4 linked regions of the Homo sapiens genome follow. The main gene of each other region encodes a partner of the protein of the gene in region 2 in a complex. Each region holds a gene or a part of one and is shown on either strand. Other genes may lie near its edges.

Region 1 (7,021 bases), on a different chromosome or scaffold from region 2:
AAAAATCAGTATGCCTTTACCAACAAAAGGTAGTCAAAAGTGAACATAATGAAAACAAAGTAATACTGTCAAAGTTTAGCTGGAAGTTTGCTGAGACTAATTCTCTTAGTTCAAAGGGGTAGCAAGTGCTGGAGAGGTGTAAAAGGTACATGAGCACCAAACCTAGACTTTGTCCTCTGAGTAACAAGAAAGACTGAAAGACATGAAAATTTAGTTGATTTGAGCCTGGGCAACAAGAAAAGACCCTAACTCTACAAAAAAATATAAAAATAAATTAACTGGGCATGGTGGTGTGTGCCTCTAGTCCCAGCTACTCAGGAGGCTGAGGTGGGAGGATCACTTGTGCCCAGGAGTCTGAGGCTGCAGTGGGCTAGAATCGTGTCACCGTATTCCAGCCTGGAAAACAGAGCAAGACCCTGTCTTTAAGAAACAAACAAACAAACAAAAAACAAATAGTTGGTTTAACGCCTTGTCCAAGTACTCCCTAAAACCACCCCCATTATACTGGTGAGGCCCACACAGGAAACATCCTCAGCAAAAACCCAGACTCGTACAGCTGTATAAGGCACCTTCAGATGACAGGGGTGTGGTAAGATCAGCAGGGAGGTCTCCAACCACTGTCTGTACCTGGGATGGTTCCCCAGATATGCCCCATGTCCCCAGCAAGCCTTCAAAACCTCAGGATAATGAAAAAATGTCCCTATAATGATGTTTAGGGAACCCTGATTTTTAAAATGTCCCAACAGTAATATTCAAAGTGCCACACTTATATACAACACCTGTGTCAGTCAGAAAGTACACGGACCTTAAAGACACAAGATATGAACACGTTCAAGTCTCAGGTTCACTGCTGACTCACTCTGACCCACAGCAAGTTACCAAACTACTCTTTGCTTCCATTTCCCCATGTGTAAAATGCAGCTAACACCAGTTTCCCTTTCTACCTTGAAACATTATTGAGGAGATGCCAAAGTGTTTTTGTTTTATAGACAGGGTCTCACTCTGTCACCCAGGCTGGAGTGCAGTGGTACAATCTCAGCTCACTGCAACCTCCACCTCCTGGGCTCAAGGGATCCTCCCACCTCAGCCTCCTGAGTAGCTGGGACTACAGGCATATACCACCATGCTCGGCTAATTTTTTTTTTACATTTTGTAGAGACGGGGTTTCACCATGTTGCTCAGGCTGGTCTCAAACTCCTGCGCTTAAGCGCCTTGGCCTCCCAAAGTGATAGGATTATAGGCGTGAGCCACTGAACCCAGCCCTCAAAGTCTTTTCAAATCGTACAGTGGCCTGCAAATGCAAGGGGCTAGGAGGGGTTGTTCCATAAACATTGTCTGTGGGGCCTTCCATTGCTCCTCTGGCGAGAACCTTGTACTTAGAACTGCCCCAAACACACCAAGGCATGGCCCCGGCATCTGGTGCCAGCTAGCCAGCTCCACTCTTCAGACTTTCATATCCCTGGCCTGTGAGTTTAAGAGGGGGTGGGAGCCCGGCACAGTGGCGCACACTTGTAGTCCCAGCTACTCAGGAGGCTGAGGCGAGAGGATCACTTGAGCCCAGAAGATCATACCCAAGCCTGGGCAACAAAATGAAATTTCACCTCTGAAAACAAAAATTTTTTAAATTTTTTTTAAGACAGATGGCAGGAGACAGGGTACAGGCAGTGCTGTGCCCCAGATCAACCACCACAGCAATTATGTGCCACACTAGTGATCGACACCCAGGCTGGCTCCTCAGCAAGTCGTGGTCATACCCTGCCGTGTAACTAACACCATGAGGTCTCAATTTGACAGTATATTAGTCTAACTGGAACCTCATGCTTTGGAAAAAAAATTCTCCCTACTCCTTAAATAATGCAAACCACACATAAGAATGAAGGTGAATGCACACTTAAATCCTGCTAAACTAGGCCACTATACCCAGCAAATGCCTCGGGCAGACAAAGGGCTCCTGGAAAAAGGGGCCCTGGTTGTCTCCTGTACCACTGCCTAAGCCATAACTTTACCCCATCTGGGAACAATCTGAAAAATAAAACAATGAGAAGGCTTGGCATGTTCATTCCAAGCTATTCAGTTGCTTTAAATTAGCTTAACGTTAATTTTAGAATCATACTCTCCACCAGAAGGAATAGATTTCAACAGAAAAAGACATGATTCTGACTCAACCCAGCTGGTGGGACTTTTTAAGGGTAATTTCCACTTCAGTTTCTTGACAGGAACATGCAGGAAATGAAAAGGCCTAACCTAGCGAAAAAACTTTTGGAAAACCGCTCAGTTGTGCATTTCTACTGCATGCTCCATAAATATACGTGAACCCAGGAGAAGTGAAGCACAGAGTTCTGCATGCCTGCTTTAACTCGGATATTGGTCTCTTTGTTGCAATGTAAACGATAAGTTCACAGATTTTATTTATTTATTTACTTTTGAGGCGGAGTCTCGCTCCGTCACCCAGGTGGGAGTGCAGTGGCACAATCTTGGCTCACTGCAACCTCTGCCTCCCGGGTTCAAACGATTCTTCTGCCTCAGCCTCCCAAGTAGCTGGGACTACAGGCGCCCGCCACCACACCTGGCTAATTTTTTGTATTTTTAGTAGAGACGAGGTTTCACTATGCTGGCCAGGCTGGTCTTGAACTCCTGACCTCAGGTGATCTGCCCACCTCAGTTTCCCAAAGTGCTGGGATTACAGGTGTAAGCCACCACACTGGCTCACAGATTTTAGAAATGCCTACAAAAGCAATCACCATAGCTAAAAATCAATCTAGGGATGTGCATGGTTTTGGATTTTTTTCTTTCTTTTTTTTTTTTTTTTTGAGATAGGGTCTTGCTCTATCGCCCCAGGCTGGAGTACGCTGGCATGATCATACCCTTGACCTCTCAGGCTCAAGTGATCCTCCCAAGTGGCTAGAAATACAGATATGCGCCACCATGCCCAGCTAATTTTTTTATTTTTTGTAGAGACAGGGGTCTCACTATATTGCCTACACTGGTGTCCAAGTCCTGGGTTCAAGCGATCCTCCCACCCTGGCCTCCCAAAGTGCTGGGATTACAGGCGTGAGCCACCTAACCTGGTCATATATATTTAAAGGGACCTTGGATATCCTCTTATTTCTTTAGCAGCAGAGGATGGCACAAAATTATTGGAAAGCTACTTGGCAAAATGTTTAAGAAATCTTTTAAGGATGCTCTTTTAGCCAATAATGAGCCACACAGAATTTTCTTCTAAGGAAACGATCTAAAAGGGAAAGAAAATGCTCAGAGATTTCCCCACAGCTTAATTTGCCAAAATGAAATGTTGGGAACAGGCCAGGTGCGGTGGTCACTGCCTGTAATCCCAGCCACCTTGTGGTGGCTGAGACATGAGGATCACTTGAGGCCAGGAGTTCAAGACCAACCTGAGCAACACAGAAAGACCCCATCTATACAAAAAAACTAAAAAAAATAAAAAAAATAAAAAAAAAATTAGCTGGGTGTGGTGGCAGGCACCTGTAGTCCTAGCTACTCAGGAAGCTGAGGTGGGAGGATAACTTGAGCCCAGGAGTTCAAGGCTGCAGTGAGCTGTTATCATGCCACTGCACTCCTGCCTGCGTGTCAGAACGAGACTCTGTCTCTAAAAAAGAAATGTTGGAAACCTCCTCCTCTAAGGAAAATACAGAAATGGTGGCCAAGTCAAGGAAAGCCTTTCACCTCTACATGGTGCATCCCCTTAATAAAGGACCACAGGGCATTATGAAGACCATGGAGCAAAATGGAAAAATGCTTACAACACAGAGTGGAATATCTTTACTAGTATTACAAGGATCTAAAAAAAGGATTCCAAGGACAGAAGGAAACAGAAAAATGTGAAAACAGCTGGTAGACACTACTCTGGTAATGAGAATATGGTGATTCTTCACCCAACTCCCCTTTTCTGTATATTCTGTTTTTAAAGTATCAGGGGAAAAGGGGAGGCATGAACACTGCTAAGAGCCATTAAACATTTATCTTAAACACAACACTGTCTAAATCTGACATGACCCAATCAACATCATCACAATGTTCAATCAAGCACAGAGAAGCTTTCAACCTAATACTCAAAGGTAATCAAAGCCCTTGAAATGTAATGAGATGAATCTGCAGAGCTGACATAGTGAAAGTCTAACCAAAGTAGGCTGGTGCCGTGGCTCACGCCTGTAATCCCAGCACTTTGGGAGGCCCAGGTCGGGGGATCATTAAGTCAAGAGACTGAGACCAGCCTGGCCAACACGGTGAAACCACGTCTCTACTAAAAATACAAAAATTACCTGGGCGTGGTGGCGCACGCCTGTTGTCCCAGCTACTCGGGAGGCTGAGGCAGGAGAATCACTTGAACCCAGGAGGCAGAGGTTGCAGTGAGTTGAGACTGCACCACTGCACTCCAGCCTGGCAACAGAGTGAGACTCCATGTCATTTAAAAAAAAAAAAAAGAAAGTCTAACCAAAGTAATCTTTATGTCTAATTTTATTAGGTTGGGAAAGGAAGGACCATCCGTTAAATGATGCATACTGACTGAGACACTGCCTCAGGGGGGTGACGTGGTCCCTGGAGAACACATGCTGATTGGGCCTGCTTCCACACATGAAGGAACTGTCCAGAAATCCAGACTGATTGTGAAATCTCATTTTTACTTGTTTTGTTTTTTTTGAGACAGGGTCTCACTGTCACCCAGGCTAGAGTCCATGGCTCACTATAGCTTCAACCTTCTGGGCCCAACCGATCCTCTTGCCTCAGCCTCCTAAGTAGCTGGGATCACAGGCCCATGCCACCACAGCCAGATAACTTTTTATTTTTTGTAGACAGGGTCTCACTATGTTGCCCAGGCTAGTCTCAAATTCCTGAGTTCAAGTGATCTTCCCACCTTGGGCTCCCAAAGTGCTAGGATTACAAGCAAGAGCCACAGCACCTGACCTCCTCATTTTTAAATAGTAGCAACAAATTTGAGTTTCGAAAAAATTACTGTGAGGACAAACAAAACATCTGTAGGCTGGACATGGACTGAGGGCTGCCAAAGGAATACCTTAAATACCCTAGAGAATGTACTGACCTTTGGAGTCAAGGGGCCAGTAAAAAAATTCCATCTAAGGATGTGAGGGTAAGTACAGTGGGGAGAGACAGGGGGAACTCGGAGCAATTCCCATTCCATCTGAGGTGGCGGCTAGCACCTGCGTGGAACTGTGGGGAGAGACAGGAGGAACCCGGAGCAATTCCCATTCCATCTGAGGTGGCGGCTAGCACCTGCATGGAACTGTAGGAAGAGAGAGGATCTCTGACCAATGCCCATTCCATCTGAGAAGCCAGCTAGCACCTGCACAGGACTGTGGGGAGAGACAGGAGGAACTCAGAGCAATACCCATTCCATCTGAGGAGACGGCTAGCACCTGCATGGAACTGTGGGGAGAGAGAGGATCTCTGACCAATGCCCATTCCATCTGAGAAGCCAGCTAGCACCTGCACAGAACTGTGGGGAGAGACAGGAGGAACTCGGAACAATGCCCATTCTATCTGAGGTGGCGGCTAGCACCTGCATGGAACTGTGAGGAGAGACAGGAGGAACTCGGAGCAATGCCCATGCCATCTGAGGAGGTGACTAGCACCCGCGTGGAACTGAACTGCATGCAGCCCCATGACCTCACTCCCGCCTCACAACAACTCTGAGATGGCATTTTTTCCATTTTGCAGATGGGTCATTTGAGGCTCTTGGAATGTGGTCTTTGTACAATGAGAATAATAAACTCCCCTTTTTATCTTCCTCAGGCCAGCAGCTCAGGCACAGACACACACCATCTGTGATGAAGCAGCTTTCCAGGCATTTCCTCAGGCCAGTTTTAGAAGCAGAGGCTCCTGGTGACTGTGGGGCTAAGTGTGATTCTCACTTTGGCCACTGCTATGCTGTGTCAGGGACACCAGTCCTACCTATTGCCTACCCCAGTGCCATGTTGTGGTTTTTTATGAACTAAAAGGCCCAAGCCAACAACGTCTCTTTAAAAACCCTTGTGCTGATTCAGTGCTGAAGTCTCTTCATGCTGAAACCCACCTCTGACCCACCCAAGTAGCTCTGTTACCTGGCCACAAAGCTGGCAGTCTTGTCAACAATATTTCTGACCTCTGGAGGAGGGTAAATAATCCCCACAACTGGCTTAGAAGGTGCAGAATCCTCCTTTGAAGATGCTTCTTCTTCTGTGGGCTGTGCAAACAGGAAAAGAAATAAGGTTTTAAAGTCCCTGGTTCAGAGCAGGTTCTCCACTGTAAAACTCCTCTAGGATATCATTCAGAGTAGACTTTCATTCACAGACTTCCCTCAGGTTAGAACCCTCTACTTCAGAAAAGCAGTTCTCTTAAGTTCACTGCACCTGCAGGGGCTGCTCCTGGGGACCCAGGGAGAAGAGCAGCTTCCCTGGCTCCTCTCTCACTGGACTATCTCAGTGAGACCAGGAATCTGCATTTTTACTATGGTATGAGACCAGCACTTCTCCTGTTGTCCTTCCCAGTTTCTCCCCAACCTCCCCTTTTCCCTAGTTTATAAGACAGGAGAAAAGGGAGAAAGCAAAAAGTTGGAAAGAAACAGAAGTAAGATAAATAGCTAGACGACCTTGGTGCCACCACCTGGCCCTGGTGGTTAAAATAATAATAATATTAACCCCTGACCAAAACTACTGGTGTTATCTGTAAATTCCAGACATTGTATGAGAAAGCACTGTAAAACTTTTTGTTCTGTTAGCTGATGTATGTAGCCCCCAGTCACGTTCCTCACGCTTACTTGATCTATTATGACTCTTTCACATAGACCTTTAGAGTTGTAAGCCCTTTAAAGGGCTAGGAATTTCTTTTTCGGGGAGCTCGGCTCTTAAGACACGAGTCTGCCGACGCTCCCGGATGAATAAAAAACCTCTTCCTTCTTTAATCCGGTGTCTGAGGAGTTTTGTCTGCGACTCGTCCTGCTACATTACCAAATGCCCAGGTGATTCAGATGCAGGGACTCCGACTACATTCTGAGAAACCATGTTCC
Region 2 (7,281 bases):
TTCCATACCAGAGTTGGAAGCTGAGCCAAACAAATCTTTCATAAAGGAAAGTCAAAAGTTAAAAAAACAGGAGGAAAAGCAAGAACCTAGAGGACATTCCAGAGTGAGAACTGAAAAAACACCCAACAAAATAAAACAGGAAAAATATTATCACAGAAATAACATAAGAACATTAGCAAGAAAATTAAAAACAAAAACAAAACCCAGGACTAAAGGAACCAAACTGTCCAGATACCAAGCACCCACCAGGATCAGCAAATAAAAAGATCCCCGGTAAATGAGGAAATCAGGAAATTTTACGACACCAAGGAAGATGTTAAGCTTCTACTAGACAGAAAGACAACTGAGCAGAAAACATCAGAAACCAGCATAGGAACTGATCTTTTGAGAACAGCACTGAAAACAATGCTTTCACAGTTCTGAGCAAATACAGATTTTTTTCTCTCTCTTTTTTTTTTTTTTTTTTTGAGACGGATTCTCGCTCTGTCGCCCAGGCAGTAGCTCGATCTTGGCTCACTGCAACCTCCACCTCCCAGGTTCAAGCCATTCTCCTGCCTTAGCCTCCCGAGTAGCTGAGATTACAGGCACATGCCAAAACGCCTGGCAAATTTTTATATTTTTAGTGGAGATGGGATTTCGCCAGGTTGGCGAGGCTGGTCTCAAACTCCCAAACTCAGGTCATCCGCCCGCCTCAGCCTCCCAAAGTGCTGGGATTACAGGCGTGAGCCACCACGCCCGGCCTACAAATACAGATTTTCAATCTAGATTTTTATACCCCACCAAACTTCTAACTATGAGGGTAAATAAACTCGTTTTCAGACAATCAAGGACTTCCCCCACCCCCCGAAAAAAATCATCTGTTTCTTCAAAAGCTCCCAGAAGTTTTGCTCGGACAGCATGAAGGGAAAGAGATGACCACACTGGAAACAGAGGTCAGCACAGGGGAGCAAGGACAGGAAGGTTTGGGACAACAGCTCCACTTCCAGGTCAGAGCACAACCAGTCCCATTTGGAGGAGGAGGATAAGGGGGTCTTGGAGGGAAGTGGTGAGGGGAGATCAATTTATTTAAACCTATGCAAAATACAACTGATAGGTGTGTGAGAGGTGGGAGCTTTGTGGGGAAAAAACAAACAGCAGGTAAAAGAAAATCAGGCTCATGGTAAAAACAAAGTTAATTAGCTTTAAGGGAAGATAGAATGGTACAAGAAAAGCCTAGCTGAACATATTACTTGTTTTAGCAGCCAACAATATTTTGCATCTTATTTAGAAAACACAACCAATGACCAACTATGCTCATGACATAAACTCATTCAGGATATGGAAGGTGAAGGTGCAGTGGGTGGATGGGAGGGAGAAGATCTCAACAGCCGTGACAAGAAATCAGCAGATGATGTCTACAAATTGATAAATCCATGAAGAAATCTGTTACTTACTAAGGTAAAGATCAGGGGACAGCCTGGCCAACCTGGTAAAACCCCATCTCTACAAAAAATACAAAAATTAGCCGGGTGCAGTGGCTCATGCCTGTAATCCTACCACTTTGGGAGGCCGTGGCAGGTGGATCACCTGGTCAGGAGTTCGAGACCAGCCTGGGCAACATGGCGAAACCTCGTCTCTACAAAAAATACAAAAATTCGCCGGACATGGTGGTGAGCACCTGTGATCCCAGCTACTCGAGAGGTTGAGGCAGGAGGATGGCTTGAGCATGGGAGTTTGAGGCTGGAGTAAGCTGTGATTGCACCACTGCACTCACTCCAGCCTGGGTGACAGAGCAAGACCCTGTCTCAAAACAAACAAAAAACCGATGACGACCAGGGGAAATGAGCTTAAGAATTGAGGAAAAGTGGCCTCTGGGACCTGGGACTAGACCATTGAGAAGGAATTAGTTTTTCGTGGCAACACCGTTCTCTCCTTAACCTAGCCAACAACCTATTTTCCAGAGCTCCGCCTGGCTGTTTGGTGTCGTCCAAGGATACACAAGAACAACGGTCACAGCGGGGTGCACCTGCAAAATGGGGCCAGCTAACGTGTTCTGGTCGCCTTTGGCATGATGTTGAAGCCGTCACTCCCATTTTAAGGGAACTGAGGCTCACAGGAATTACATCACAGAGCCCCAGTCAACTAACAGGTATAGATGAGCATACAGAAGCGTTCTCGGCTACAAGGAAGGCGGCCGAAACCATTTCAGCCGCGATCCCGATTCGACCCCAACGAATCTTGGTTGTTTCTTTTTTATTTTGTCAAACAGGGTCTTGCTCTGTTGTCCAGGCTGGAGTGCAACGGCACAATCACAACTCACTGCAGCCTCGACCTCCTGGACTCAAGCGATCTTCCCGCTTCAGCCTCCAGAGTAGCTGGGACTACAGGCGCGCGTCACCAACCACGCCCGGCTAATTTTTTTTTTTTTTTTTTTTGCAGTGATGGGGTCTCGCTATGTTGCCCAGGCTGGAGTGCAGTGGTGGGATCATGGCTCACTGCAGCCTCGACATTCCGAGCTCAAGCGATCCTCTCGAGTAGCTGGGCCTACAGGTACAACCACCACTCCTGGCTAATTTTTTAAAATTTTTTGTAGAGATGGGGGTCTCGGTGTGTTGTCCAGGCTGGTCTCGAACTCCTGGCCTCAAGCGATCCTCCCGCCAAGGCCTCCCTGAGCAGTGAGATTACAGGCGTGAGGCCCCGCGCGCGGCCTCCCAACAGGAGTTTGGAAATAGAGTTCCTGGCGGGCCCGACCCTCCAGGCCCGCCCAGCGCGGGGCCTCAGGATGCACAAGGCCGGACGCTCACGGGAGGAGGGAGGGGAGCGACGCCGCCGCCCCACCCTCGGCCCGCGGCCTGTCGCAAGCGCCTCTCTCCTACGTCCGCTGTCCCCCAGGGAACCCCCGGTCCGCGTCGGCCGCCGCCCTCAACCGCCTCTACTCCTCACCAGAGCCCAAGGCCGCGTTATCTCCTCCTCGTTTCGCCACCTCCACGACTTCGTTTGGCGAACGGCGGGCAAAGAAAGCACTTCCGGGGCAAATGAGACGGGCCCTCTGGTGTGCGCATGCCTGGCCCGCCCAGCGGCGTGAGTCAGAGGGTCCCGAGGCGCGAAGGAAAAGGCTGGAGGGGGAGAGGCTGAAAGCGCGGCCTGGAAGGCAAACTGCGCGTGCGCACAACGCTCTCAACGAACCCTCGGTCCGCTGCGGCCGCACGGGGCCAACTTTCGCGAGGGAGCGGCTGACACTCTCCGGGCGACGTTATCGCTCCCTCCGCCTGCGCCTGGCCGCTCTAGAAAGGGGTGCCAGCCATCGCTGGGGTGCCTTGATTCTGTTCCACCTTGGTCCGGTTTATTTCAGTTTAATGGTTATGTAACAACGGTCCGTCTCTCCTACCAACCGGTACCCCGCCCACGCCAGCAGCCACGGGTCGCCAGCGCCACGCAGCGGAGGCGGGCGGCATGGCTGGCCCAAGGTGCGCAGGCGCACTAGCCCTGGGGGTGCTTCCGTGTCTGCGCCCTGAGACATTTTTGGCGCCGGCCCCAGCCTGAGCGGGGACGGCGGCCGGGAGGGCGCGGCCCGGGTTCCCGTTCCCCGCGGAGCCATGCGGTACAACGAGAAGGAGCTGCAGGCTCTGTCCCGGCAGCCGGCCGAGATGGCGGCCGAGCTGGGCATGAGGGGCCCCAAGAAGGGCAGCGGTGAGCGGGACCCGGGAGACCGAGACAGTGCCAGGGGCGGGAGGCCGGGGCCGGGGTCTGGGCGGGGGTGCCGGAGGCCGGAGTCCGGGTCGGGGCGCCGGGGACGGGAGGCCGGGGTCCGGGCGGGGGCTGCCTGCGCCCCTGAGTGCGCGCTGTGCCCGCAGTGCTGAAGCGGCGGCTGGTGAAGCTGGTGGTGAATTTCCTCTTCTACTTTCGGACAGACGAGGCCGAGGTAGGGGCGTCCCGGGCGCGCGGGCGGGTCCCAGGCTGGGCCCCTCGGAGGCCGGGTGCTCACTGCCCCGTCCCGGCGCCCGTGTCTCCTCCAGCCCGTCGGAGCCCTGCTGCTGGAGCGCTGCAGAGTCGTCCGGGAAGAGCCCGGCACCTTCTCCATCAGTGAGTGGGGCTAGGGAAGCCAGCGGCGCTTCCCGCAGCCCGGGGCACCCGCAGCGCCGCACTTTCCCCTCCCCGGGCGCCCAAGGTCTCCTCTGTGTCCCCAGCCTGGCGCCACCCTCCTCAAACACAAGAGTGCATTGTCCACGGGCAGCTCAAGGTCAAGTTCTCCTGGCGGGCACCACCCTTCCCACCTGCCGAGTCCACTTAAGCTTGGGTCCCTCCCAGACTCTGCTCTTTGTTCCCTGTGGGCCCAGGCTGTACTTACAGGGCAGGTGGGCCAGCCCCACCCAAAGCGTTTCCCCAGCTGCCAAGAGTAGCATGGGTCTAGCATTGTTATATGGCCCCGGGCTGGAAATCCCAGGTGGGGGTAGGAGGAGTGAGAGGGGGGTGTTCTCCTGGGTCTTAAGAGATTCCCTTCTGCGGGGAAAGATGGAGTCCCTGCTAGTTTGCCCAGAGTGGCTGTCAAAATTCCACAGGCCAGGTGGCTTAAATATCAGAAACATTCTCTACAGTTCTGGAGGCCAGAAATCCTAGATGAAGGTGTGGGTGGGGCCGAATCCTTCTGAGGCCGAGGGGAATCTCCCAGTTCCTAGTGGTGGCCAGTATCCTCCAGGTTCCTTGGCTTGTGGAAGCGTCACCTTGTCCTCCTTGCATCACGTCTGTGCCCACATTTCCCCTTCTACACAGACGCCAAGCAGAATTTAGGGCCCACCCTGACAACCCCTTTTTACTTCACTTTATTATTTTATTTGCTTATTTTTTGAGACAGGGTCTTGGTATGTCGCCCAGGCTGGAGTGCAGTGGTGCAATCTCGGCTCCCTGTAACTTCCCCCTCTCGGGTTCAAGTGATTCTCCTGCCTCAGCCTCCCGAGTAGCTGGTACTACAGGCACGCGCCACCATGCCCAGCTAATTTTTGTATTTTTAGTAGAGACGGGGTTTCGCCATATTGGCCAGGCTGCTCTCGAACTCCTGACCTCAGGTGATCCTCCCACCTCGGCCTCCCAAAGTGCTGGGATTACGGTCTTGAGCCACCGTACCCGGCCCTCTTTATTTTTGAGACAGGATCTTTTGTTTCCGAGGCTGGAGTGCAGTGGCGTGATCACAGCTCACTGCAGCCTCAACCCCCTTGGCTCAAGCAGTCCTCCCACTTCTGACTCCGGAGTGGCTGGGCCTACAAGGCCCCACCACCACACCTGGCTAATTTTTGTTTTTGTAGAGATGGGGATTTTGCCATGTCACCCAGGCTGGTCTCGAACTCCTGAGCTCAAGCAATCCTCCCACCTTGGCCTCTCAAAGCGCTGGGATTATAGGCATGAGCCACCGCACCTGGCGACAACCTCATTTTGACTAGTTTATATGCAAAGACCCTGTTTATATACAGGGCCATACTCATGGGTTCTGGGGGGTCAGGACATGAACACATCTTTGTGGGGGCCAGAGAAGGGACAGTTTATGGGCAATGGCAAGAGGAAGCTGCTTGTGGCTGTGGGTAGGACCGACCACAGGTGTTCCATCCCCAGGCTTCATTGAGGACCCTGAGAGGAAGTATCACTTTGAGTGCAGCAGCGAGGAGCAGTGTCAGGAGTGGATGGAGGCTCTGCGTCGGGCCAGGTGGGGCCAGGCGGTGGTGGGCACTGCTGGGGTGGGCACAGCAGCCATGCAGAGCGGGCATTTGACCCCGTGCCACCCTTTTCCCCAGCTACGAGTTCATGCGGAGAAGCCTCATCTTCTACAGGAACGAAATCCGGAAGGTGACGGGCAAGGTGTGTGCAGGGCTGCAGAGGGCCGGGGTGGGGCTGCAGGTGGCAGAGGCAGTCCTCCAGCCCTGGCTCATGGCCACCCGTCCTCCCCACAGGACCCCCTGGAACAGTTCGGCATATCCGAGGAGGCCAGGTTCCAGCTGAGTGGCTTGCAGGCGTGAGCGCAGGGCACGGTGGTCAGCGTGCAGCGGGACGGGACTGGCCCTGCCCAGCCATGAATCGCTTGGCCATGCCTGGATCTGTTTTGTTTTGGTTTTTGGTTTTTGGGTCAGGGTTTCACTGTGTTGCCCAGGCTAGAGTGCAGTGGTGCCACAGCTCACTGTGACCTTGACCTTCTGGACTCAAGTGATCCTCCTGCCTCAGCTTCCCAAGTAGCGGGGATCACAGGCATGAGCCGCCACACCCGGCCATCACACCTGGATTTTCAGTGGGAGGTTTTTGGTTTGGAGACATCCAAAGCCTGAAGCCAGGTGGGTGTGGGCAGGGGCTGCATTTTATGAAACTGCCCAGCAAGCTGCGCTCCCTGGGGCCCCAGGATCCACCTAACTGGCCTGGCACCTGGTGCCACGTGCTGCTGCCGCCAGGATATGCGCCTTCCCACAGGTGCCCTGCCTGAGTTGTGTGCATCCAGGGGCCTGGTGAGCCCCCAGGCTGGTGGCATGGCCCCCCTGCCCCGTGCTGAATGAATGTACAGAGCCAGACAAAGCTGTGAATGGCCTAGGGGCTGAGTCCCACACCAGCTGTGAATTCTCCTGCAGACAGGAGGGCCCTGGCTGTGCACCTGGGGAAGTGGTTGCCCTGGGGCCAGGGTGCTTGTTCTGTTCAAATAAAGGTACCTCTTTTCCACACTGGATGGCGGTGAAGTGAAGGAGAGGGGAGGGGCAGCCAGGGAGCCCCCACCCAAGGGAAGTAAGGCTCAGGGTCCTGAGAGGCAGTGGCTGGGCCTCCTGCACTGAGGGGAGAGCTAGAACCCCCAGCCAGGACAGGTGGAGGCTGGGACCCAGGCCTGGGGAGAACAGAGCTGCTGTGTGGTATCAGGAATCCTGTGGTGACCTGGGGTCCTGCCTCTGGCATTCACGGGCCCTCCCGGAGTGTGGCTGGGGCCTGGGCGGGCTTTGGTCCATCTGATGTGAAAAGGACTTTGCCGATGTCATTGGGGTCGCAGATCTGGTTTTCCGTTCATCAAAAGGCACTTTGCCTGTGGCCTGGTGCCCTCATAAGCCTCCCCTTGCCTGTGGCCTGGTGCCCTCATAAGCCTCCCCAAGGCCAGGGTGTCCTGGTGTCAGCCCCCGGAGCTTCTGCTAGGAGCACCCCTAGGCCCTCCACTCCCCGTTTCGGCGATGACACACTAGCCGGGGCCTCTCACTGGCCGCCAGGAGACGCCTCATGCCACCTGGAAGAAAGGCTGCCATTCACACCAGGTCCGAGTGAAAACAGTCTGTTTATTACAGCGTCTAG
Region 3 (7,684 bases), on a different chromosome or scaffold from region 2:
AAATCTGGATATCTTGAAGCTAGCACCGATGGGATTTAATGATGAACTAAATGTCAAGTGTGACAGCAAGAGAGAAATCACTCAGTTGCCATTTACCAAGATGGGAAGGCTGAGGGAGAAATCCAGGGAGAAGGTGGATCAGAATATTAGGTATCCAAGTGGAGATATATAGTATATAGTTGAAATATTAGCCTGTAGTTCAAGGAAGAGGTTTCTCTAGAAATATAAACTGGACAGCTATTAGTGTACAAAGGCTATTTAAAGCTATAAACCTAAATAAGATCACTAGGAGATGAATGCACCTGATTATCTCTCAAGCACCTCAAGTTCAATCTGTAGAAACCCAAACTTGTTACCCTTCCCTCCCCAAACGATTAATCGTACCAACTTCCGGTCACTAGGCTCAAAACATTAGTCATCATCAATATTTTTCTCTTGCTCTCATTCGATACAATAAATAAAACACCAATTGGCTGGGCACAGCGGCTCATGCCTGTAATCCCAGCATTTTGGCAGGCCAAGGTGGGCAGAGAGCTTGACCTCAGGAGTTGAGACCAGCCTGGGCAACATGGTGAAACCCTGTCTCTACAAAAAATACAAAAATTAGCAAAGCGTGGTGGCACACGCTTGCAGTCCCAGCTATTCGGGAGGCTGAGGTGGGAGGATCTCTTGAACCTGGGAAGCATAGGTTGCAGTGAGCCAAGATTGTTTCAATGCACTCCAGCCTGGGAGACAGAGCAAGTCCCTGTCTCAAAAACAAAAAAACAGGCCGGGTGCGGTGGCTCACGCCTGTAATCCCAGAACTTTGGGAGGCCGAGGCGGGTGGATCACAAGGTCAGGAGATCGAGACCACCCTGGCTAACACGGTGAAACCCCGTCTCTACTAAAAAATACAAAAATTAGCCTGACGCGGTGGCAGGCGCCTGTAGTTCCAGCTACTCGGGAGGCTGAGGCAGGAGAATGGCGTGAACCCTGGAGGCGGAGCTTGCAGTGAGCCGAGATCCCACCACTGCACTCCAGCCTGGCGAAAGAGCGAGACTCTGTCTCAAAAACAAAAACAAAAACAAAAAAACAACCAAGTAATACCAATTTCACCTCTGTAATTCCCTTCACATTATATCACCTCCACAGAGTTCCAACCGTCACTATTCTATATCAGACATATCTACCTAGGAGATTCTTAAAGACTGTAGTCTTCCTGTTTCTATTACTTTTCCATTAAATCTTACTCATTGCTGCTAAGGAGAATTCTGATTCTATTACACACTTTTTACTCAAAATCTTCAAAGGTTCACAAACAAATTCTGATCTTCAAAATCTACAATCCACCCGCTTTCTGGGCCCAAGTCCTATTCAGGACCTACCTCCTACTACTTCTCAAAAAAGATAAAATCCCTTCATGAAACCTACATATGCAGAAAAATTGGGCTTTTTAGCTATTTCTCTAACACCTTGCGCCTTCCCACCTCTAAGCCTTTCATGATTCCCTGAACAAACCTAGAGCACAGGCCATGCACACCAGAGAGGTAAAGGAGAAGGCTGACGGGCTAGAATGGACCTTCTTGTGAAGGGCCTTGAAGGCTGTCATAGAGTTTAAATTTCATCTTGGAAGCAGTAGAAACCAATGGAGACTAAGTCAGGGGCATGCCATCATCTTATCTCTACTTCAGAAGTGTCACTCTGGCTGTAGTGTAAGGGATCTAACAATTAGGAGAGCAACAGAGGAAGACAATCAATTCAGAGAATCAATTTAAAACAGATGTAGTAGTCTGGACAATAAATAATTAGGGCCTCAATTAAGTCAGGGACAACCAGAATGGGCAAAGGATGTAGAATCTAACAGGCTGTGGGTAGTGAGAGAGAAGAATGAGTCAAATAAATATCACTTTCAGATTTCTGGTCTGGACAGCCTTCCGGAGATTTAAAACACCGTCACAGGAATTTTCTGTAGTTAAAGAAATATTTTTTATCTTCATCCAGGTGATGATTACACGGTTTATATATTTGCTAAATTTCATCAAGCTTTACCCTTACGTTTTGTCCATTTCCCTGATTGTTAATTGTACCTCAACAAAGAACTGTTAGCACTAACAACAAAAGCCTTCATTGTTCCTAGACATAAAATATCTTTCAGTCATTGCTAAATACATAGCAAATAGTCATTTTTAACATAAAAATCTCAAGGTTCCTAACAATCTATCAACAATCTAAAGTTGTGATGAGATCTAATGAGTTCTAATAAGAGCTCATAGTCCACAACTTCAAAAGGACAGAAAAGCAGGTAACAAAGTTACCTGCTTAAATACGAAATCTATTTGCGAAGTAAATGCCCACGCAACAAGTATTTATTGTAGCCCAGTAAAAGCCTAGTCGTGTATAGTGCTGTCGATGCGGTAAAAATGTCTGCCCACACGCTCCTTTCAAGTAACTTGGGAAAAGATCATACGCGCACAAAGAACTAAAATACAGAATGACAGGAGTCGAGGAAATGTTGGAAACGCGAAGCAATAAGCAATCCAACTGGGATCACTTCTGACTGAAGTAATCAGGGCAGGCTCCCTTGAAGTGGCGGGATGTGGTGCCCAATCACTAACGTCCTGGAGGGTTGTTCCCGCTCCAGGGGCTCGAACCCTCTGATGGTAGTGCAGGGGAAGCCGTCGCTGGCCCAAACACAACCATTCCCTCAGCCGAGGTCCCCCAGCCCTTCCAATGCTCGCGGGGCAGCGCTGACCGCACGTGGGGCCGCGCCAGGCCTGGCCCGGCGGCCACCTCAACTCCCGCCTCTTCTCACGACCCCAAGAAGCCGCTCGCCCGCTAGCCCGCTCGGCGCTCTGCCTCACCGTGACTCCCGACCCATGCTGCCGACCGCGGGAATACTGGTGCCCTTGAGTACCACGCACAGGCGAACCGGACAAACAAGGAGGCTGAGCTGCCCTCAACGCCCGGCAAAGACCAGCGCTAAACACTAGCAGCACCTACAGCTGTGGCGGCCATCCCAGCGCGGCCAACGAAAACAGGACGTGCTGGCGCCGGCAGCCGAAGGAAGAGAAAAGCCGACCGGAAGCTGCCGCTCTTCCACAGCGCCCCACCTCGACTGGAGGACGCACAGCGCCGGCCCCATCGAAAGGTGATGCCTTCGCCCCGCCCAGTCTTCCCGGCGCCCGCACCACGCCCGGCTGATTAGTGCGATGGAGCGCAGCGCGTCAGCCTCGCCGGCCCGTGAGGGTGTTTCGCGCCAGAGCCAAAGAGGCGTCCTGGGCAGGCTGATGTCTGCCTTAATTTGCGCTAAATAATGCGGCAACTTTCTCCGTACACGCTCTTTATTCATGTATACATTCACTCATTTATTTATGTTGTCATATGCCAGGCTTGTGCTAGATCCTGGGGAGCTCACAGTCTATCCGGGAAACAGATGACTAAAGCCAGCACAGTGGCTCACGCCTGAAATCCCAGCACTTTGGGAGGCTGAGGCGGGAGGATCTATTGAGCCCAGGAATTCAAGACCTGGGCAACGTAGCCCTCGTCTCTGCAAAGAAAATAGTAATAATAATAGACTTGACTAAAAACACAAGCAGAAGTAATACAGCAAGGAGAGTCCACCATTGGAGACGGATTCAGAAAACACGTTTCCCTTGGAAGTGAACTCTGAGGTGAGATTTGAAGACCCGGTAGGTGTTAACCTAGTAGAGAACAAAGAGCTAAAAATACTTTGGCAAAAGATTAGTTCTCAACATTGCTTGCACTGGGAAGCTTAAAAATAAAACAAAAAAACAAAAAAAGGGCCAGCCATGGTGGCTCATGCCTATAATCCCAGCACTTTGGGAGGCCGAGGCAGGAGGATGGCTTGAGCCCAGGAATTCAAGACCTACCTGGGCAACATAGCGAGACCCTCTACAAAAAATAAGCAAAATAATTAGCCAGGTGTGCTGGCACGCCTGTGGTTCTAGCTACTTGGGAGGCTGAGGTGAGAGGATCATTTGAGCCAGGGAGGCTGAGGCAAGAAGATTACTTGAGCCCAGGAGTTTGAGGCTGCAGTGAGCTATGATGACTCCAGCCTGGGTAGCACAGAGAAATCTCATCTCTAAAATATTAGTAAATAAAATAGAAGCCTGGGTTCCACCCCTATGTTCTGATTTAATTGGCCTGGAGTGCTTCTTGTGCACTGGGAATTTTTAAGCTTCCCAGGTAATTCTGAAGTACAGTCAAGATTGAGAACATTATTCGAGAGTTTGGGCACCAAAAAAATGTATATGTATTGTCTCATGCAACACACACAGAAATGTTGAATTTTTTTTGTTTTTTTTTTTTGAGACGGAGTTTCGCTTTTGTTGCCCAGGCTGGAGTGCAATGGTGAGAGCTCAGCTCACCACAACCTCCACCTCCTGGGTTCAAGCGATTCTCCTGCCTCAGCCTCCCAAGTAGCTGGGATTACAGGCATGCACCACCACCCCAGCTTATTTTGTATTTTTAGTAGAGATGGGGTTTCTCCATGTTGGTCAGGCTGGTCTTGAACTCTCGACCTCAGGAGACCTGCCCGCCTCGGCCTCCCAAAGTGCTGGGATTACAGGCATGAGCCACCGTGCCCGGCCATGTTGAGTTGTTTTTGCAAAAAGCTATAATGGAGTTGGAGAAAGGCTCATATTTTTACTTTACTTGCCTCTGTACTATTTTACTTTCTTACACCTAAAGATGATGGAAAAGTTCTGTGTCTTGATTTTAGTGGTCATTGAATAGATTTGCACATTTTTCAAAATTCACTGAACTGTACCCTTTAACTGTACATGACTTATTGTATGTAAATTTTACCTCAACATAGTTGATTAAAGAAAAAAAGCAAACCAACGAGTGACACTCCAAGATGAGTTTATGCTCCCCACGCCCCCCGTGGCTTGCTGCCCACCTGTGGTAGCTGCGAGAAGCATTGAAGAGGGATAGAGACTGGAGGTTCTGGCAGTCCATGCCAAGGGTAAGAAGGCCTGAGCTAATTAATGAGTGACAGGATGGACACCAAGGAGGGTTAGGAATCCCCCTGTAAATTGTTTGGATGTGGGCTGCAGGTAGGGAATGTGGATTTCAACCTAAAAGACATAGAAAACCACCAGTGGCTTAAACAATGAAGACTGAGAAGTGATCAGATTCTGGGTGTATTCTGGAAGCAGCTCTCAAAGCGCCAATAGATAAACTGGATGTGAGCTATGACGGAAAGGAAGGAATAAAAGATGACTGCCAGGTTTTCAACAGAGCTATTGTGGACTGTGGTGAATTTGTGGAGATGAGAAAAGCATGGAAGCAACAGATTTAGTGGAGGAAATAGAGAAAGTCATTGAGTTTGTTTCAGTCATGTGATATTTGAGGTGCCTACTAGACATCCAGGAAATAACAGCTACAAATAGAGGCGGGAGAGATATGGGTCCTCAGCATTTTATAGAATGTATAATACACAGTATTTGAAGCCATGGACTGGATGAGGCCATGCAGAAGTGAATGGAAATAAGTCCTTAATTTTTGAAATTAACACAATTTGAATATTGCTTAGAATCACAGGATTAGGGCCAGATGCAGTGGCTCATGACTGTCATCCCAGCACTTTAGGAGGCTGAGGCGGGTGGATCACATGAGGGCAGGACTTCAAGGCCAGCCTTGCCAACATGGTGAAATTATGTCTCTACTAAAGATACAAAAATTAGCTGGGTGTGGTGGTGCGTGCTAATCCCAGCTACTCGGGAGGCTGAGGCATGAGAATCACTTGAAACCGGGAGACAGAGGTTGCAGTGAGCCAAGATCGCGCCACTGCACTCCAGCCTGTGCGACAGAGCGAGACTCTGTCTCAAAAAATAATAATAAAAAGAATCATGGGATTAATGTTATAGATTTTTAAAATCACAAACTCAAACTTCTTGATTTTAAGTAACAAAACTGAGACTCAGGAAACATATTTCATCCTAGATCACTAACCTTGTTGGAATCTAACCTGGAACTAGAGTCCAGAGATCTGACACTTAGGCCAGAGCTGTCTTCAAGATACTTTATTTCCAACTCCCCTTTAAGACAACACATTAACAAGACAATTCTAACTGGCTTAAATATTTCTTATATATATAATATATATTCTAATTAATATTACATTAATATAATATATATAGAATATATATTTTATATATATATATATATATATATATATATATATTTTTTTTTTTTTTTTTTTTTTTTTTGAGACAGGGCCTGGTTCTGTTGCCCAGGCTGGAGTGCAGTACTGTGATCTCGGCTCACTGCAGCCTCCTCCCAGGTTCAAGCGAATCTTGTGCCTCAACTTCCCAAGTAGCTAGTAGCTGGGACTACAGGCACACACCACCCCACCAGCTAACTTTTGTATTTTTCATAGAGAGGGTTTCGCCATGTTGCCCAAGCTGGTCTCAAACTCCTGGACTCCTGGTCTCAAGCGATCTGCCTCTCTTGGCCTCCCAAAGTGCTGGGATTACAGGTGTGCACCACCCCCACTCCACCACAATATATTTATAGTAAATTCACATCAAGTCTGTCCTGGAGGAAGGCTTTTTTTTTTCTTTTTTTAGAGACGGAGTTTCACTCTTGTTGCCCAGGCTGGAGTGCAATGGCGCGATCTCGACTCACTGCAACCTTGCCTCCTAGGTTCAAGCGATTCTCCTGCCTCAGCCTCCCAAATAGCTGGGATTACAGGCATGAGCCACCACTCCCAGCTAATTTTGTATTTTTAGTAGAGACGGGGTTTCTCCATGTTGGTCAGGCTGGTCGCGAACTCTCGATCTCAGGTGATCTGCTGCCTCGGCCTCCCAAAGTGCTGGGATTACAGGTGTGAGGCTGGAAGATTTTATCTATTTAGATAGGTGAAAGAAATGACTATAGTCTGTGTTCTAATACATCACTTTCAGTAAACTAACCTGTTTTCCAAAGCAGCAGATTTTGACTGTGACTTGACTTACTAACCCAGTATTGAATATCTAATAACCCACTTGCTGTTTTTAGTGCCAACTGTGATGACACATGTCCATTTACACAACTAATTGAACTAAAAAAACTACTAGGTTACATGGTCAAGATGTCACCTCTAAACAACCATCCTTGTCCCTCTAGTTTTAATCCATATACCTTTTTTTTTTTTTTTTGAGACAGAGTCTCACTCTGTTGTCCAGGCTGGAGTGCAGTGGCGCGATCTCAGTTCACTGCAACCTCTGCCTCCCGGGTTCAAGTGATTCTCATGCCTCAGCCTCTTGAGTAGCTGGGATTACAGACGCGCCCGCCACCACACCTGGCTAATTTTTTTTTGTTTTGGTTTGGTTTTTTTAGTAGAGACAGGGTTTCACCATGTTGGCCAGGCTGGTTTCAAACTCCTGACTTCAAGTGATCCACCCGCCTCGGCCTCCCAAAGTGCTGGCATTACAGGCATGAGTCATGGTGCCCAGCCAGTCCATATACATTTCAAAACCCAGAAATTTCCAAATAAAAAACGTTTTAAACTATTCCAAACACTAAGAAACTTCAATTCCCAGGCCAGGCGCAGTGGTTCTCGCTTGTAATCCCAGCACTTTGGGAGGCCAAGGTGGGTGGATCACATGAGGCCAGGAGTTCGAGACCAGCCTGGCCAACATGGTGAAACCTGTCTCTACTAAAAATACAAAAAATTAGCCAGATGTGGTGGCATGCATCT
Region 4 (7,021 bases), on a different chromosome or scaffold from region 2:
AGACACCACATCTGGCTGAGATAAAATTATTTCTCTCTGGTCATTCTTAATATTCAGAGACATATCTGGAAACACATTCACCAAACAGTGAATTTGGCTATTTCTGAGTGGTAAAATTGTGACTTGCTTTCATCTTTGTACTTGTCAATTCTGACTGAATATTTTATGATGAGCATGTCAGTTTCTTTAAAAAACAAAAACCATTATTTGTTTTTCTACACATACACATGGTATATGACAAATATTATGTCAATAAAATATTTTTTAAGTAAATAAAGAGACACATGGTGGAGTTAGAGAAGGAAAACAAACAAATTACCTTCCAGTTCAAAAGCAGAAATGGCCAAGAATGAACGAAAGGACAATGCTCACCTCAGGGATGGGCGAGTTCAGCCCAGGGATTTTCAGGTTGGGATACGATGGGGGTGGTCCATATCGCTGCATGGCAATCAGCCATGGGGGAGGGACCTTGTGGGCATTCTGCAGGAAAAAGAGAACAGGATACCATCTGCCAAACCCTATCCCTGTCTCTGCCTTCCACTCCAATCCCCACCAGCCTCTTCGCTGCTTCCCCAGACAGCTAACTGACACTCACTGGTCCTACTGGCATCCCCAAGGAAATCCTTAGCTCATCAGACAGATCTCCTGGCTTCTTCTCCTTCAGTCGTGTCTCGAACTCCTTCCCCTGAGGGAAAAGCAGAGCATGCTACATTGTAGACCCAGACACTCAGTGGGAGCACAATCCTAACGCACATCAGATATAAAATCCCAGTGAGGGCTACCTGGCTCCCACTCTGATTCTCATCACTTCTTTCCCTGGCCAAAGTCGGGGAAGGAATAAAAACCAGGCCAGACTCACAGTGCTGTCAATAACCCACTATGAGAACACGGCCAACGTTAGGACCTGCCTCCTCATCTGTAAAATGAGGGCACTCGACAGGAAGATATGCAAAATTCTTCCACCTCATAAATTCCATGACATCATGGTGACTACGATTTCAAGGATCAGAAAAAACCAGCAATTTCTCTACCACTCCCAATATTAAAAGTTTCCTAAAAGCATCTGCCCCTTGGCCCCTCCATCCCTAAACCACCTACCACAAACTATTATCATTTCTAAGACAGGATACGAAGAGTCTATCAGGGAAAGAAGCCACCAGATCTGCATCTCTCCTCCAAATAGAGCCTCATTTTTAAATTCCATCTCATCCGAGGGTAGTCGATGGGCAATTCTAAGGCTGAGGAACTATCGTAGTTGCTTCAAAAGCCCTCCTTGGCCAGGTGCGGTGGTTCATGCCTATAAACCCAGCACTTTGGGAGGCTGAGGCGGGTGGATCACTTGAGCTCAGGAGTTCCACACTAGCCTGGGCAACATAGCGAAACCCTGTCTCTACCAAAGATACAAAAAATTAGCCAGGTGTGGTGTGCCTGTGGTCCCAGCTACTCAGGAGGCTGAGATGGGAGGACTGCTTGAGCCCCCAAGGCAGAGGTTACAGTGAGCCGAGATCCCACCACTGCACTCCAGCCTGGATAACAGGGTGAGACTCCATCTTTTTTAAACAAACAAACAAACAAAAAAAAGCCCTAGACAGTCTCAACCCCAAGGCCCAGCCTGACCTCTCCCAGCCCCCTCCCGAACCTCATAGTACAGGTCCCCATGGATGGTCAGCTTTGGCTTGGTCTGCCACTTGAAGAAGGCATCATGCAGTTTCTGGTAGTCGATGTCAATTTTGCCCATCTTAGGCCGAACTTTCTCTCGCATTTTTGACTTCATGGTCTTCTGTTCTTCCTGTGGAGAATGGCAGCAAACAAGCCTTAACAAGTACTCACCAAATTCATGTAGAGAATCCAGCTCCCAACTCCAAATGAGATCATGGGAAGCCTCAATTATCTCACCCTGAAAGTCATCAAAATCCTTCCTGCTAAAACCTTTCAAAATTACATAATCCATACTGAACAAAACAGACTATACAATATCAGCCTCAGCCGTGTATATCAATAACTAGTTTTTAAACCATCTCATCAAGAGATGAATCTCAACAGTTCTCTGGAAAGCAGAGACTTCCCCATGTTCTTTTCTACCTCCTGAATTCAAAGCATTTAACTAAAAGCTTTAAAATTAAGAAGTTACACAACCACCACGAATCTCTAGCCACAAAGTACATCTGAGAAAGGAGTCACCAGGTGAGCTGGCAAAGTGAAGGCAGAGGGGAGGAAGAGCAGAGGAGGAAAACAAAAGGATAATTAGACAAGTAACAAGTAGGTGGTAGGTGGGTTTCAAACCAGATTCCCATTTTGAAGCACACTGCTATGAAGGATGGGGACACCCGGGGGCAGGTCTGAGCCCTGCCAGGCCCTCACCTTCTCCTGCAGGGCCTCTCGCATCTCCTGGATGCCTGTGCGTTTGATGAAGTCTGGCAGCTCGAAGGGGGGCTTCTCAATGCCCCGTTTGCCCTGCAGGTATTTGCGCTTAAAACACCAGTGGCGTGGCACAGGCACAGAGTTCCGAGTGGCCTTGAGGTGAACCAAGAGCTTAGGGTCCTGCGCTGTCACATCGTGCATCTCCACGACATCGGGCCGAGCCACCAGCTGGAAAACACATAGTAATGCGTGTTCTCGAGAGCCCCGACTTCTCAGTTCTGAAGCTCTTCTTCCTCAAAGGACCCAAACCCAAATCACCCACACCTCCTTCAAAGAACTCCTTTTCACCTCCCTGGCTCCCCAGGTGGTCTCCCAGCTGGGCTCCAGGGCCTGCAGGATCCTCTCAGGTCTTACCTGCTTGAGTTCAGCCACAGTGAAGCGGTTCATTCGGCGCAACTTCTTCTTGGACAGCTTGGGGGCTTCTGGCTTCTTTTCCTAGAACAGAACAATCAGCCCTTTTAAGCAGGACTCAGATGTGAATGAAACTGCCCAACCCACCCCAACCTTAAGCCACCAAAGCTCTGTAAGAGTTCACCATGGTCCCTCTCTGGATGCATCTCAGCCACCTGTGCCCAGAGTCCCTGCTTCCCACCAGGAGGGCTGGGCCTGACCTGCTCGTCATCACTGCTGTCATCATCACTGTCCTTGTGCTCCTCTTCAAATCCCTTCTTCTTGGGGGCTGCAGAGTTCTCCAGTTTGTCAAGTTTCTCTGGCTCCTTCTCTTTCTCCTTCTTCACATCATCAGTGAGCTAAGGAGGCAGACAAGGTGAAACCCCTGCCCTCTGAGCCCCTTCCCAGTTCCTAAGGCCAGCACTAAAAGATGCCTGTTCACCGCTGCCTCTCACCCACCTCTGAGCCCCTTCCCTGTTTGGCACTGCCCCTTCCTAGTGTGCTCTCCTTGTACCTTAAAAGCCTCAAAGATCCTCTTAAAGAAGATAAAGTTGGGCTCGTAAATTTCAGGTTCTTCAGTCACATACTCAATCTCAACATCAGCTGCTGGGGAATCAGAGCCACGGGACCGGGTTGAGTCTTTCTCCCGGTCCCCAGAGCTCTCAGAGGACACCCCTCGCACCCGCTGGGGCTTTTTCTTCTTCTTTCGGTTCCTACGCTTCCGGTTTTTCTGTCAAGAGGAGGAAAACCAGCTGGGTCAGGGAATCCAAGCACTGTGCCAGCACCCCAACCCCTAAACTCCTCCCCCATTCTCCCCCACAGTTCAACAGTCAGGCTTTTCCCAAGGAGGCCATCTCATGAAGTAGCTGCGAAGGGGCCTTGGAGTCAGACTCCAAAGTTCTGCCACTCACAAGCTGTATGCCTTTGGGTAAATTACTGTGCGTCTCAGAACCTCTGCTTTTTCAGCTGTAAAATGTAGGCACGTATAGTACTTGGAACTCAAAGCAATTAAATGAAAAATATCTATAAGATGCTGAGGGCGGAAATTGGCACAAAATAGAAGCTATTACTTACTGAACACTTACAAATTGTGTTATTTCCGTACCCAAGTCCCATCTCCTGGCTTTCCTTCCACACTCAGCTCCAATCCCTACCTCCTTTTTAGATACGGACACTGTGTCCTCCTCAGTCTCTGACGCTGACTGGCCCAGGGACGAGCGAGCATCTGTTTCCATTTCCTCTTCCTCTGTAAGGAAGAAGGTGGTGATGAGTCTTCACGGTGCCACTGCCCTGCACTCGTTCACAGTAACCTGCCTTTACCAAGAGCCAGGGAAAGGGACAGAGGGATGAGGACTCAGCTCAGCCTCTCCAGGTTCTGTGGCTACAGCATCAGAACGCCTGGCACTCACCCTGCTGAGAATTCATCTCTTCCTGGCGGCTCTCCTTCAGCTGCAGGATCTTCTCCAAAGCCTGGGGGATCTTGGGGCCCACAGAGGGGTCATCCATCTGCCAGAGACACCCAGTCAGAGAAGGCAAATCACAGTGCCCTTTTTCTTTTTTTTTTCTTTCTTTCTTTTTTTTTTTTTTGAGACGGAGTTTTGCTCTTGTTGCCCAGGCTGGAGTGCAATGGCGCGATCTCGGCCCACCACAACCTCCGCCTCCCAGGTTCAAGCAATTCTCCTGCCTCAGCCTCCCGAGTAGCTGGGATTACAGGCATGCACCACCACACCTGGCCAATTTTGTATTTTTAGTAGAGATGGGGTTTCTCCATGTTGAGGCTGGTCTAGAACTCCTGACCTCAGGTGATCCGCCCGCCTCGGCCTCCCAAAGTGCTGGGATTACAGGTGTGAGCCACCGCACCCAGCCCACAGTGCCCTTTTTCCACCAACTTCCACCTCTTGGACTAGAAAGGCTGCTGCCCAGGTGATGTAAGCAGCAGAGAGTGGGCAACACCAACTGGGCTCAGTGGGGTTTAGTGTTCCTCAGAGGGACCCCAAGACTCTGCCTCAGTAATGTCTCCCCAGTCCCTCTGCCATACCCTTAGTTTAAATAAGAAGGGCTCCCCACTACCCCCAGGAATTTAAGTCCCCCCATCTTCTCACAGAACCTTTCTCTAAAAATCCAAAAATAGTCCCATCCTAAACTACCACTCTCTTATCCCTAGGAATAAATCATCAGTCTCACCTCTCTGTTCTCATCTCCAGGGGGCGGTGGGGGACCACGAGGCCGGGGAACAGGGGCTCCCATGGGCAAAACTGTAGGAGTGGGGCCCACTGGGCCCACTGGAGCAGCTACTAAGAGACGGGAAAAAGAAATCCAATGTCAGAAGAGGCAAAACACTCACGTAAAAAATTACCTCTCTTGCTGAAAGGGTGATGGTAAACCTGCAGGGGAGGAGGGCACGTGGCGTGGCTTTTGGAATGCTGGTAATGTTTTGGATCATGGTCCAGGTGCTGGTTGTACAGGTGTGTTCAGTGTGTAAAAAACCATTAAACTATATATTTACTATATATGCCCTTTTTAAATGTGATAGATACCTTAAAAGTCTTTTTAAAAATGTCTAAATCACCTTCCTTGCCCTTCCCCTCGGTTCCAGGGTCTCACCTCGAGGACCCAGAGGAGTGCGCACACCAATCTGGCCCATGTCTTGTGGGGGCCGAGGGACTGGGGTGCCCATCTTGGCAATCTCCTGCTGTCGTTCCTGCTCCAGTAACACAGCTGCCTACGGGAGGGAAGTGGGAGTAGATACTGCCTGAAAACGCATTTGGCAGGCAGCCCCTGGCAAATGCATTCTTTCAGCCGGGTAATGGGCCCAAGGAGAACAATCACGAACCACTTGGGTGCTGACATCCCCTCCACCCCCACACTTCCAGGCTACTAATCCAAACGGAGGAGCCCTCTCATCACAACGGAAAATCCCTAGAAATAACACCAAGGAAAACCCCAGGAAACTTCTGGTTCCTAGCAGAGAATTTCATATTGAGCCAAACAGTGCCTTCTACTTTTCAGAGAGTTTTCTTCCCCAAAAGATTAAATTATACAGAAGAAACTTTTGAGCTCTTTTCTTATATCCACCCCTCAAGATCCAGCACAATCTGGGCAAAGACAGTACTTTACCCACAGGTCCAGACTTGTGGCTTTTTTTTTTTTTTTTTTTTTTGAGACAGAGTCTGGCTCTGTTGCCTAGGCTGGAGTACAGTGGCATGATCTCAGCTCACTGCAACCTCGGCCTCCCCAGCTCAAGCCATCCTCCCACCTCAGCCTCCCAAGTAGCTGGGACTACAGGCATGCGCCGCCACACCTGGCTAATTTTTGTATTTCTGAGAGACAGGGTTTCATTATGTTGGCCAGGCTGGTCTCGAACTCCTGAGCTCAAGCGATCCACCCACCTCAGCCTCCCAAAGTGCTAGGATTACAGGTGTGAGCCACGGCACCCAGCTCATACTTGTTGCTTTTTAACACTTACTTTTTAATACTCCTGAGTAACCCACTGGGTAATGACTGATGCAATGCACCTCTGGGGCCAAACATCTTATATAACATTCCCAGACTTACAGTCCTATTCTGTCTAAATCCAATACAAATAACTCAATTACCCAGAGTCCTATCTAGAATGATGTCATGTAAGGCGAGCAGAGGTCAGCAGGCTCTTTTTATAATAGGTCAGAAGGTAAATATTTTAGGCTTTATGGGTTGCTGTACAGACTCTGGTACATATTTTTGGTTTGGGTTTTCTTATAACCCTTAAAAAATTTTAAAGTTATTTTTAGCTCATAGGCCATACACATGCAGGCCACAGGTCATAGTTTGTCAATTCCTGAACTTCAAGAAAAATTGAAAGCTTTGGAAGATACTAGAACTTAGTTGAGAACAAAGTAGCCTCCAGGGAAAACTTGAATGGTGCACTCTAAGCACTATAAATGACAGCCAACTGACTGGACCACGAGGTCAAAGGTTAGGGGGAGGGGTATTACCCGCTTCTGCTGCTCCAAGAGCTCATGTTCCTTCAGCGAATGATCTCCCTGCTTAAAAAAGAAAACAAGTTCATACCAGCACCAATACCCAACACGCCAATCTGCCACAACTCTTGCTTCTTGAGATCCTCTTCCAGTCAAGGGCCCATGTTCCAATCTTTAGTCCCGACCTTCCCAGAAGCCTTAGTTCTAGGACCCAGCTTTCTCTAAGGCTCCACTGCCCCTTCAGGGACCTA

The links.
Region 1: SF3A2 (region 2) and SF3A1 share a complex: the UniProt entries of both Homo sapiens proteins name them as parts of the SF3A subcomplex of the 17S U2 SnRNP complex.
Region 3: SF3A2 (region 2) and DDX46 share a complex: the UniProt entries of both Homo sapiens proteins name them as parts of the 17S U2 SnRNP complex.
Region 4: SF3A2 (region 2) and SF3B2 share a complex: the UniProt entries of both Homo sapiens proteins name them as parts of the 17S U2 SnRNP complex.

What each region holds. Positions count from the first base shown.
Region 1 is NC_000022.11:30,346,874-30,353,894, forward strand, and holds part of SF3A1 (splicing factor 3A subunit 1), read right to left. Parts: intron 6,200-7,021; coding exon 6,078-6,199; intron 1-6,077. UniProt on the Homo sapiens protein: Component of the 17S U2 SnRNP complex of the spliceosome, a large ribonucleoprotein complex that removes introns from transcribed pre-mRNAs.
Region 2 is NC_000019.10:2,232,543-2,239,823, reverse strand, and holds the start of SF3A2 (splicing factor 3A subunit 2), read right to left. Parts: upstream 3,001-7,281; 5' UTR 2,923-3,000; intron 1-2,922. Other genes in the region: PLEKHJ1 (pleckstrin homology domain-containing family J member 1), read left to right, coding at 3,576-3,669, 3,834-3,901, 3,996-4,062, 5,584-5,674, 5,763-5,826. UniProt on the Homo sapiens protein: Component of the 17S U2 SnRNP complex of the spliceosome, a large ribonucleoprotein complex that removes introns from transcribed pre-mRNAs.
Region 3 is NC_000005.10:134,754,112-134,761,795, reverse strand, and holds the start of DDX46 (probable ATP-dependent RNA helicase DDX46), read right to left. Parts: upstream 3,018-7,684; 5' UTR 2,858-3,017; coding exon 2,841-2,857; intron 1-2,840. UniProt on the Homo sapiens protein: Component of the 17S U2 SnRNP complex of the spliceosome, a large ribonucleoprotein complex that removes introns from transcribed pre-mRNAs.
Region 4 is NC_000011.10:66,055,350-66,062,370, reverse strand, and holds part of SF3B2 (splicing factor 3B subunit 2), read right to left. Parts: intron 6,837-7,021; coding exon 6,786-6,836; intron 5,534-6,785; coding exon 5,416-5,533; intron 5,106-5,415; coding exon 4,996-5,105; intron 4,318-4,995; coding exon 4,221-4,317; intron 4,058-4,220; coding exon 3,966-4,057; intron 3,542-3,965; coding exon 3,326-3,541; intron 3,171-3,325; coding exon 3,033-3,170; intron 2,857-3,032; coding exon 2,776-2,856; intron 2,590-2,775; coding exon 2,362-2,589; intron 1,790-2,361; coding exon 1,640-1,789; intron 686-1,639; coding exon 596-685; intron 481-595; coding exon 373-480; intron 1-372. UniProt on the Homo sapiens protein: Component of the 17S U2 SnRNP complex of the spliceosome, a large ribonucleoprotein complex that removes introns from transcribed pre-mRNAs.